Linked DNA regions of Homo sapiens. The protein of the gene in region 3 purifies or fractionates together with the protein of the main gene of each other region. This does not show direct contact. Each region holds a gene or a part of one and is shown on either strand. Other genes may lie near its edges.

Region 1 (3,655 bases), on a different chromosome or scaffold from region 3:
TTCTCAACATATGTTTCTAGCATTGTGAAGCATCAGAGAACAAGAAAGTTGTCTAACCAGAATGGCTTTACATCACAGTGTAGCAGGACGAGCCACAGTCAAAACTCCTCAGACACTGGATTAAAGAAGGAAGAGGCTTTATTTGGCTTGGAGCATCCACCAACTTGCGTCTTAAGAGCCGAGCTCCCTCAAAAAGAAATTCTTGGCCCTTTTAAGGGCTTACAACTCTAAGGGGTCCACCTGAAAGGATGGTGATAGATCAAGCAAGTGTGGGGAACGTGACTGGGGGCTACATGCATTAGCTTACAGAGCAGAAAGTTTTGCAATGCTTTTTCATACAATGTCTGGAAATTACAGATAACACAAGTAGTTTAGGTCAGGGATTGATATTATTATTATTATTATTATTATTATTATTATTATTATTATTTTAACTACCAGGGCCGGGTGGTGGCACCAGGCCATCTGGCTATTTATCTTACTTCTGTTTCTTTTTAACTTTTTGCTTTTTTCTTTTCCTCCTGTTTTATAAACTAGGCAAGGGGGGCGGGGTGCGCAGGAGAAGTGGTGGTCTTCTTCCTTAACAGCATGCAGTGCAGTTCTTGGTACCTGCATGTAGGTAAAGATCAAACTGTCAAACTGGTAGTCCTTAAGACTCTGCTTCCATGGGTATGACTTGTTCTAGGTATTATTGCCTAACAGAAATTTCCATTATCTAATTTTAAATTGTGTAAGGTTTCACAGTGAGATTATTCGAAGCATTTAGAGGTATTTACTAACCTGTGATGGCTTACAAATCTCTTCTTGTTGCAATAGGTGTGTTTGTAGTTGCTGCTAAGCGAACGCCCTTTGGAGCTTACGGAGGCCTTCTGAAAGACTTCACTGCTACTGACTTGTCTGAATTTGCTGCCAAGGCTGCCTTGTCTGCTGGCAAAGTCTCACCTGAAACAGTTGACAGTGTGATTATGGGCAATGTCCTGCAGGTTAGTAGAGTAAAGGAAGGTGTTCACTCCTATTGCTTCTTTGATCAGTTTCTAAAAATAATTCCTTTAACATATCATAATGGTAAACAAGTTAATAATAGTTATAGACTTTTTTTTTTTTTTTTTGAGATGGAGTCTCGCTCTGCCGCCAGGCTGGAGTATGGTGGTGCGATCTTGGCTCGCTGCAACTTCCGCCTCCCGGGTTCAAGCAATTCTCCTGCCTCAGCCTCCCGAGTAGCTGGGATTACAGGCGTGTGCCACCAAGCCCAGCTAATTTTTGTGTTTTTAATAGAGACAGGGTTTTACCACATTGGCCAGGATGGTCTCGATCTCTTGACCTCGTGATTCTCCTGTCTCGGCCCCCCAAAGTGCTGGGATGACAGGCGTGAGCCACCACTCCCAGCCAATAGTTACAGACTTTATACGTTTGTAATTTGAGTAATTCTGTGACTCCAGAATCAACAGCATGCATAATTCAAAGCATCATATGTTCTAGAAACTGTATGTCTGACTTGGGATGCATTTCAGTGCTTCCTAAATAGCAGATTGACTTCCTTGGCTTACTTGAAGTTAATTGATCTTCTCTATATGCCACCTTAGTAAACCCAAGCCATTACAGCACACCTCCCCTAATTTTCTTACACATTGTAGGAGCTTGATCAGTGTTTGTTGTAAGAAATAAGATGCTTCCTTACCCTCTGTCTTGCTATGTGTGATGTACAAAATCAATCATTCATATGCAGGTAATTGAAAATTCAGAATTCCTTTAAAGTATACAAACATTTGTTGGATACCTAGTTAGAGGCTATTATAGGTGCTATGGCACCCAAGGTGGACCAAAAGGAGGTAATAATCTAATGAAAAAGATAAGATATATATATATATATATATATATATATATGATCAGTTTCTGTGATATATCTTATGTATCATATATACACACACAAATATATATATGATACATATATTTAAAGATGTCAATGATGTGATCATTGCTAAAGGAAAGAGAATGACAATGGACACAGAAGTCACTAGGCCTTGCATTTGAACTTGATGCTGTTCATCTTGCCGTTGTGTATCTTCACATCCAGAAAAAGCAGTGACTTTTTTCCTTTGGCAGTTATGTCTGTTGAACCTAAAATATTTTCATAAAGAATTCTCAATATTGTCTTTTGTTCTTTTTATTTTATTTTGTAACTTTTACCTCTGACCTAAGAAGGCATTAGAACAGATTGAATAGAAATTGGATACTTCCGTTTTTTGCGTTTTCTAGAATTTTGAAGGAAAAATATTTTTTTCCCAGCATGTATTCTCTCAAACTTTATAACACAAAGTCACTATAAATAGTATCAGTTTCATTGTGTTTGTGCCTCTGTTCCTAAAGACAGTTTTTCTTGTGTTAAGTTTTCTGTCAGGCCAAGATAGAGTTTTCTTGTAAGGATGTTAAGTGCTTAACATAAATATTTGGGGTTAGGCCTTTATGGTTAAGAGAGAACAGAATATGCTTCGAATAACATTTGACAAATACCACAAAGCTGCTTTTCTAATTGAGTTTTATATTATTAAATATCACTTGGAATAAATGAGTTTTACTTATTTCATAGGAAACAATGAAATCCAATGTGGATTCTTTTTATTTCTTTTTCTTCCCTAATTGCCCTGGCTAGAATCTCCAATGTTGAATAGAAGTTATAAGAAATGGATATCTTTGTCTTATTCCTGATTATAGGGGGAAAGCATCTGGCCTTTCAACTTTACATATGATGATAGCTGTGGATTTTTTTTTTTTTTTTTTTATTGATCATTCTTGGGTGTTTCTCGCAGAGGGGGATTTGGCCCACAGGACAATAGTGGAGGGAAGGTCAGCAGACAAACAAGTGAACAAAGGTCTCTGGTTTTCCTAGGCAGAGGACCCTGCGGCCTTCTGCAGTGTTTGTGTCCCTGGGTACTTGAGATTAGGGAGTGGTGATGACTCTTAACAAGCATGCTGCCTTTCAAGCATCTGTTTAACAAAGCACATCTTGCACCGCCCTTAATCCATTTAACCTTGAGTGGACACAGCACATGTTTCAGAGAGCACGGGGTTGGGGGTAAGGTCACAGATCAACAGGATCCCAAGGCAGAAGAATTTTTCTTAGTACAAAACAAAATGAAAAGTCTCCCATGTCTACTTCTTTCCACACAGACACGGCAACCATCCGATTTCTCAATCCCTTCCCCACCTTTCCCCCCTTTCTACTCCACAAAACCGCCACGGTCATCATGGCCCGTTCTCCATGAGCTGCTGGGCACACCTCCCAGACGGGGTGGTGGCCGGGCAGAGGGGCTCCTCACTTCCCAGTAGGGGCAGCCGGGCAGAGGCGCCCCTCACCTCCCGGACGGGGCGGCTGGCCGGGCGGGGGGCTGACCCCCCCACCTCCCTCCCTCCCGGACGGGGCGGCTGGCCGGGCGGGGGGCTGACCCCCCCACCTCCCGGACGGGGCGGCTGGCCGGGCGGGGGGCTGACCCCCCACCTCCCTCCCAGACGGGGTGGCTGGCCGGCCGGGGGCTGACCCCCACCTCCCTCCCGGACGGGGCGGCTGGCCTGGTGGGGGCTGACCCCCACCTCCCTCCCGGATGGCGTGGTTGCCGGGCGGAGACGCTCCTCACTTCCCAGACAGGGTGGCTGCCAG
Region 2 (3,655 bases), on a different chromosome or scaffold from region 3:
AAAGTTTCACTTGACTATTTTACTGCCTTTCTTTTGGGGTTAATAGCAATGACTTTTGTAACTCTAGTAACTGGAACACGGGTGGATACAGCAGTATCCTCTGCTGTTTGCCTTATTAGTCACCTCTAGTCTTTTTTTTTTTTTTGCCTGGTTATTCTGTCTGCCATTTTTCTCCCTCTATTCTCATTCCACTTGTGAATGGAAATCGGAGGTCCTCTCTATTAGCTACCCTCTCGGGGTGGGGAGGGTAGGTCTCACTGTCTCCTCATAGTCATATTCCTGATTTTTAGGATATACAAGAACAAAGTGGGCTCTGCCAGCTATCAGCCTTAGAGCTATGAGCTGTGGTGCAAAGATTAGTCTGTCATTGCCAGAAGGTGTTTTGTAGTTTGCAGTGGGCAAATCAAGCATCCCTAATAATTTTAGAACCATTATTAATGTCTGAGAATTACTACATAATACCTTAGAATTTGAACTGATTGTTGATTCCAGGAACTAAAAACCTGGACATTTTGAAAATGGCAAATGTTGGTGATGTTTTTTTTTTTTTGAGATGGGCTCTCGCTGTGTTGCCCAGGCTGTAGTGCAGTGGCGTGATCTCAGCCCACTGCAGCTTCTGCTTCCTGCGTTCAAGCAATTTTCCCACCTCAGCCTCCTGAGTAGTTAGGATTACAGGGGTGTGCCACCATGCCCAGCTAATTTTTGCATTTTTAGTAGAGACGGGGTTTCACCTAGTTGGCCAGGCTGGTCTCAAAACTCCTGACCTCAGGTGATCCTCCTGCCTTGGCCTCCCAAAGTGCTGGGATTACAGGTGTGAGCCACCACGCCCGGCCGTGTTGGTAATTTTGAAGGAAGAGTTTATACCCTTCCCTGGCTTTGGGGCTTAATATTCAGGATCTCTTTGTCTTGGGGAAATAGATAAAAGAAACCACTGGCGTTTATCTTAGATTAAAATGGCATAATTTATACCATTATATAAATACTGGTATAATTTAGTGGTAAGTACATTTTTTAGACTCTAAGTACCTTAGGCTTTGGTTACCATTTATAAAAAGAGTTTGTGGTAGTTCTTTTTTTGATACGGAGTCTTGCTCTGTTACCCAGGCTGGAGTGCAGGTGCAATCTCGGCTCATTGCAACCTCTGCCTCCTGGCTTCAAGCAATTCTCCTGCCTCAGCCTTCCCAGTTGCTGGGACTACAGGCATGTACCGCCACACCCAGCTAATTTTTTTTTTTTTTTTTTCCGAGATGGAGTCTCGTTTTGTCACCCAGGCTGGAGTAGAGTGGCACGATCTCAGCTCACTGCAACCTCTGCCTCCCAGGTTCAAGTGATTCTCCTGCCTCAGCCTCCCAAGTAGCTGGGACTACAGGCGTGCGCCACCGAGCCTGGCTAATTTTTGTATTTTTAGTAGAGATGGGGTTTTACCATGTTGGCCAGGCTGGTCTCAAACTCCTGACCTCAGGTAATCCATCCACTTCTGCTGCCTCTCCAAGTGCTGGGATTACAGGCATGAGCCACCGAATCTGGCCTTTGTTTTTTTTGAGAGTCTTGCTCTGTCTGTTGCCCAGGCTGGAGTGCGGTGGTGTGATCTTGGCTCACTACAGCCTCTGCCTCCTGGGTTCAAGCAATTCTTGTGCCTCAGCCCCTGAGTAGCTGGGATTACAGGCGTGCATCACCATGCCCACTAATTTTTGTATTTTTCATAATTTTTGTATTTTTAGTAGAGATGGGGTTTCACCATGTTGGCCAGGCTGTTCTCGAATTCCTGGCCTCAAGTGATCCTCCTGCCTTGGCTTCCTGAAGTTCTGGGATTACAGGCGTGAGCCACCTCGCCCTGCCAATGGTGGTTCTTAAAAATAACTTGAAAAAATTTTAGAAGCTATCAAGATTTGAAATGTGTATGTGTTCTTTGGTTTTCATGAGAAAGGCGATTTTGTTTATTTTGTCATTATGTTGTCTATTTCTAGGGTTACCTTGGCAACCTTAGAAATAATACTGGGTTTTTTTTTGTTTGTTTTTTTTTGAGACGGAGTCTCGCTCTGTTGCCCAGGCTGTAGTGCAGTGGCACAATCCTGGCTCACTGCAACCCCCACCTCCGAGGTTCAAGTGATTCTCTTGCCTCAGCCTCCTGGGGAGCTGGGATTACAGGCGTGCGCAACCATGCCCAGCTAATTTTTTAAAAAATAATTTTAGTAGGGACGGGGTTTCACCATGTTGTTCAGGCTGGTCTCAAACTTCTAACCTCAAGTGATCCACCTGCCTTGGCCTCCCAAAGTGCTGGGATTACAGGCGTGAGCCACCACGCCCAGCCTGGAGAGGTGTTAACATAAGCAATGGAGATATCTTATTGTGTGAAAAGTGAAATATTTGAGGATCCTGTAGCAGTGAATATGATGGTGCTGTTCATCTTAATATCATGATCATTTGACCTAGACTACATGAATTCCTTATTTGAAGAGTTAAAACTTATAGAATAAGCTGTGAGTAAAGACCTGGGAAACTGAAGATAGCATTTGATTACCTACTACTTGTGACCTGTGTTTATGGCTATGGCTCTGCCTCTTCCTAAGTTTATAGGAGCAAATTGTTTTAAGAGGGGAAAGAGAGTGCCCACTTTTAGTGGTAACGTACTGTTGTAAACTTCAGAAGGGACAGATATATTACAATTCTAGGGCATACCTTGAAGATGCTTTCATTTCTCAGAGAAAAGTTTGCGGGGCTCTCTTTGGTTGTGTTTAGAATACACATTTGATTTTTCGCAACCTCTGTTTCTCATAAAGATTAACTGGTGGCGAATTATAGACAAACAGCTCCATTTGTTTGGTATGTACCTTATAGCCTTGACATAGTTTTTTAAGTGTATTGACAAAGTGCTTGTTTTTTTTGGTTAACATTTGGCCACTTTTCCTACCTTTCATCAGTTTTAGCTGGTTTAAGGTTTGATTATATATTTATTTTTAAATGCTGAATCAAATGTGTTTCTTCTTTTCAGTTCTCTTCCTCTTTGAATACATTTGGAAACATGTGCCCTTTGCTATGAACTGTTGCTTTTTTTTCTTTGGAAATATTTTTTAAAATGTTATTTGGAGTATTTTTCTCTTTAATGTTATTTGAAAAGCAATATAGTCAGTATTAATTTTTAACTAACTTGATAGAGTTTCATAAATCTGTTCAAATGAAACACGGCATCTTTGGTCATTAAAAGAATTAATATATAGTAGGCAATAGTAAGTATATTTAGATATTGTTTGGTTTTAGATTACTTTAGAGACTCTGATTTGAGATTTTTTTTGTGTTGAAATTTGAGAAGTTGTAGAAATATTTGAATGGGTAATTTGCTGACACCTGCCTCATGTTTGAGGTATTTTCAAGGATGTTTAGTTTTCTGGTTTCTTCAGATTGTGGTTTATTGCATGCTTTTCTGCAGTCTGTTGTCTAGTGGGGATTGTTGTTGTCATCATTTCCATTATTTCTTGTAGGGCCGGTGTTAGAAACCATAAATCTAGACTGCAGTGATAATAGGAACAGCCTGTAACCAGATCCAGTTCTTTTGTCAAAAAGTTGCACCATTAGCTGCCTGTAGTATATTGACATGCCCTGCCATTAACTCAAGTCCTTCACAAAAGTCAGTGGGTAGCAGGTCTTTGGGCAGTTA
Region 3 (3,655 bases):
CTGTAATCCCAGCTACTTGGGAGGCTGAGGAAGAATTGCTTGAACCTGGGAGGTGGAGGTTGCAGTGAGCCGAGATGGTGCCACTGCACTCCAGCCTAGGCAACAGAGCGAGACTCCATTTCAGAAAAAAAAAATAATAACAATACTTGGCTGGGCATGGTGGCTCACACCTGTAATTCCAGCACATTGGGAGGCCAAGGTGGGCAGATCATGAGGTCAGGAGATAGAGACCATCCTGGCTAACACAGTGAAATCTTGTCTCTACTAAACATACAAAAAATTAGGCAGGCGTGGTGGCACGCACCTGTAGTCCCAGCTGCTTGGGAGGCTGAGGCAGGAGAATCGCTTGAACCTGGGAGGCAGAGGTTGCAGTGGGCCAAGATCACACCACTGCACTCCGACCTGGGCAACAGAGCGAGACTCCGTCTCAAAAAATAAATAAATAAATAAATATAACTATACTCAAACATCTGAAGGGCAATATAGCCAAAGAAAAGTACAGTGAAATCACTCTAACATTTATTGAACACCTATTACAGTATGAACTGGTAAAATTATAAAAAAAAAAATGACAGGTTCTGTGCTTAAGCATTATGTAATCCAAAATATTTTTCTAATGATAACAGATGCTCGCAAATGATGCTGTTTCAGAAGGTGTTGATTCCCAGGCACCTGAGGTATAAAAACATGTCAGCCAGATGGTCTTTTGACAGGGATTCTGTAGAGGGGATTCAGGTGTCACTCAAGTTAACTGAACTAGATTACTCTGCTACCTGGAGATTTGATGTATTCAGCATCATGACAAATTAAGGAGTTGTCCATAAAAGATGCCCCTTTTAAGTACCAAAATTTTGTTTTAACCACCTTTAAGGTATTTTTTTCCCTGAAATATGCTATTAGACATCTGTCTGTTTCATAATACAGTGAAGTTTTTAGAGCCTGTGAAGTAAATGAGCCTGTTTTTTTCTATACAAAATGGCTTGTCACTACTGGTTCCTCAGAGTTGTTTTTGTCTTCTTTTCTTCTTTTTGGTTTCATATATATATATATATATATATATATATATATATATATATATATATATTTGTGTGTGTGTGTGGTGGCAGTCTCTCAACGTTGTCCAGGCTGGTCTTGAACTCCTGGCCTCAAGCGATCCTCCTGCCTTGGCTTCCCAAAGTGTTAAGATTACAGGCATGAGCCACCATGCCTGGCCTGTTCTTGGCTTCTTATTTGATCATTTTTATTTATTTTTTTTCTGTATTATTTTTTACCATAACATTATTTTCCAAAGTAAAAACCCAAGGAGTTTAAACATTCAACAGTACAGAAAAGTGAAACAATTTATAGCATATCCATTAGATAGCAAATTATGCAGTATTGTTACAGCATGTAAAAAGAAGGAAGGCATAAGAAAATGTTCATGTTGTTAAATAAAGATGTACATAAAACTACATGTATATAATGGGGGCTAACTGTTAAAAACACAATTACATATTTAAAAATGTGGTAGGCACTACAATAAGGAAGTAATACTAATTAACTCCATATCTGAGGGATTACAGATATTTTTGTTCTACTTAAAACATTTCTAAATTTTCTATACTCAGTATTTTATAATTAGAAAAGTTATAAAATTTTAATTTTTTAAAAGTTTGCCTTTGGCATCCACGAATTTTGGAATTTAACCAACTGTGGAGCAAAACCCACAGATACAAAGGGCTAACTGTACATTTTGTATAACAGACTTGGCAACCAAAAATTTTGATATGGAGGGCAACCTGTCCTAAACTATTCCCTCATGGATATGGAGAGCTGACTGTATATGCTACAGGAGAACAATCTAGACGTTTCACACAGTTCTTATAGACAATAGTGAGAATGTTTAGCTAACCTCTCAATTGTTAAAAAAAATTGCAAATTTCCTAGCAAATATGTACAAATTCCTTTATTAAACAGTTTGCTTGAAATTTTAGGTATCTGAAATAAAAAACATTTATTTTCAAATATTATTTTCTGTTCTTTAAGATGAATTCTCATCATTAGCTCAAAACTAATACATCTACTGTATTTCAGTATAACAACCACACCTTAGATTGAAATATGTTTGAGTAAACAAGAAGTAAAAATCCTTAGGTAAACAACAGTTTCAGAATAGAGCGTGTGTGTGTGTGTGTGTGTGTGTGTGTGTGTATGTCTGTGTGTGTATTTATCTTGTTAAAAAAATCTAATTTAAAAATTTGTTGAGTTGCTTTCAGAGGTTTAAATAAACTCTACAACTATTCTTCCCAAGTCATTCAGTCATTCAACAAATAAGTTGCTATTTCTTCAGTTACAGGTTCACATTAATTTTTATTTATTTATTCATTTATTTATTTATTTAGAGACAGGGTCTCACTGTGTTACCCAGGCTGGTCTTGAACTCCCGGGCTCAAGCAGTTCTCCTGCCTTAGCCTCTCAAAGTGCTGACATTACAGGTGTGAGCCACTATGCCCAGCCCACATTAATTGCTTTTTTTTTTTTTTGAGACAGAGTCTCACTCTGTTGCCCAGGCTGGAGTGCAGTGCCGCCATCTTTACTCAGCAACCTCTGCCTCCCAGGTTCAAGAGATTCTCATGCCTCAGCCTCCCAAGTAGCTGGCAAGCGCCACCACATCCAGCTAATTTTTGTATTTTTAGTAGAGATGGGGTTTCTCCATTTTGGCTAGGCTGGTCTCGAACTCCTAACCTCAGGTGATCCACCTGCCTCAGACTCTCAAAGTGCTGGGATTACAGGCGTGAGCCACCACGACCAGCCAACATTAATTTTTTACTAATTCAAAACACTACTAGTTCAAACACACATTGCCCTACATTCAATCTGAACTTCCTGACACAATGACTCAGTTCTTAAAGTGTAGAATGCTCCACTAAATAGAGCTCTCTCTCCTGAAGTAAGAGGATTATTATGACACTTTTTGACATCCCAAAAACATCACAAGTAGATCTCTCTTCTCCTGGAAATAAGCAACAAAATTATGATGACACCTTTTTTTTTTTTTTTTTTTTGAGACAGGGTCTCACTCACTCTGTCGCCCAGGTAGCAGTGCAGTGGTGTGATCTCTGCTCACTGCATCTTCCACTTTTCGGGTTCAAGCGATTCTTATGCCTCAGCCTCCTGAGCAGCTGGGATTATAGGCAGGCGCCATCACGCCTGGTTAATTTTTGTATTTTCAGTAGAGATGGGGTTTCACCACGTTAGCCAGGCTGTGAACTCCTAACCTCAAGTAATCTGCCCGCCTCCGCCTCCCAAAGTGCTGGGATTACAGGTGCGAGCCATTGCCCTCGGCCTATTATGATACTTTCTTGGCATCCTTGACACATCATTGTAATAATATGTTGCTAAGTTTTGTTTCAATGCTAAATATCCCAATATATACATATAGACTGAAAAGGAGAAATAGCACCTTTGTTCCCTTCTTAAGTGTGAAATAAAGCGGCAGTTACACATACTCACACACATCAATGGCTCCTCAGTCATTCTCCCCAAATACTTCTTCTTTTGTTGATCATTTCCAGCAATAATAATAGGCATTTGCTACCGAAGAAAATTGACATTAAAAAATCAAGTCATTTTTATTGGATATGTAAATTCAGAGATGCTATAATTCAAAATGAAA

Evidence for each region.
Region 1: the proteins of ACADM (region 3) and ACAA2 fractionate together in Homo sapiens (co-fractionation; one large-scale study listed by BioGRID). This does not show direct contact.
Region 2: the proteins of ACADM (region 3) and SCML2 fractionate together in Homo sapiens (co-fractionation; one large-scale study listed by BioGRID). This does not show direct contact.

What each region holds. Positions count from the first base shown.
Region 1 is NC_000018.10:49,800,015-49,803,669, reverse strand, and holds part of ACAA2 (3-ketoacyl-CoA thiolase, mitochondrial), read left to right. Parts: intron 1-816; coding exon 817-983; intron 984-3,655. UniProt on the Homo sapiens protein: In the production of energy from fats, this is one of the enzymes that catalyzes the last step of the mitochondrial beta-oxidation pathway, an aerobic process breaking down fatty acids into acetyl-CoA.
Region 2 is NC_000023.11:18,348,165-18,351,819, reverse strand, and holds part of SCML2 (sex comb on midleg-like protein 2), read left to right. Parts: intron 1-3,655. UniProt on the Homo sapiens protein: Putative Polycomb group (PcG) protein. PcG proteins act by forming multiprotein complexes, which are required to maintain the transcriptionally repressive state of homeotic genes throughout development.
Region 3 is NC_000001.11:75,734,709-75,738,363, reverse strand, and holds part of ACADM (medium-chain specific acyl-CoA dehydrogenase, mitochondrial isoform a precursor), read right to left. Parts: intron 3,574-3,655; coding exon 3,493-3,573; intron 1-3,492. UniProt on the Homo sapiens protein: Medium-chain specific acyl-CoA dehydrogenase is one of the acyl-CoA dehydrogenases that catalyze the first step of mitochondrial fatty acid beta-oxidation, an aerobic process breaking down fatty acids into acetyl-CoA and allowing the production of energy from fats.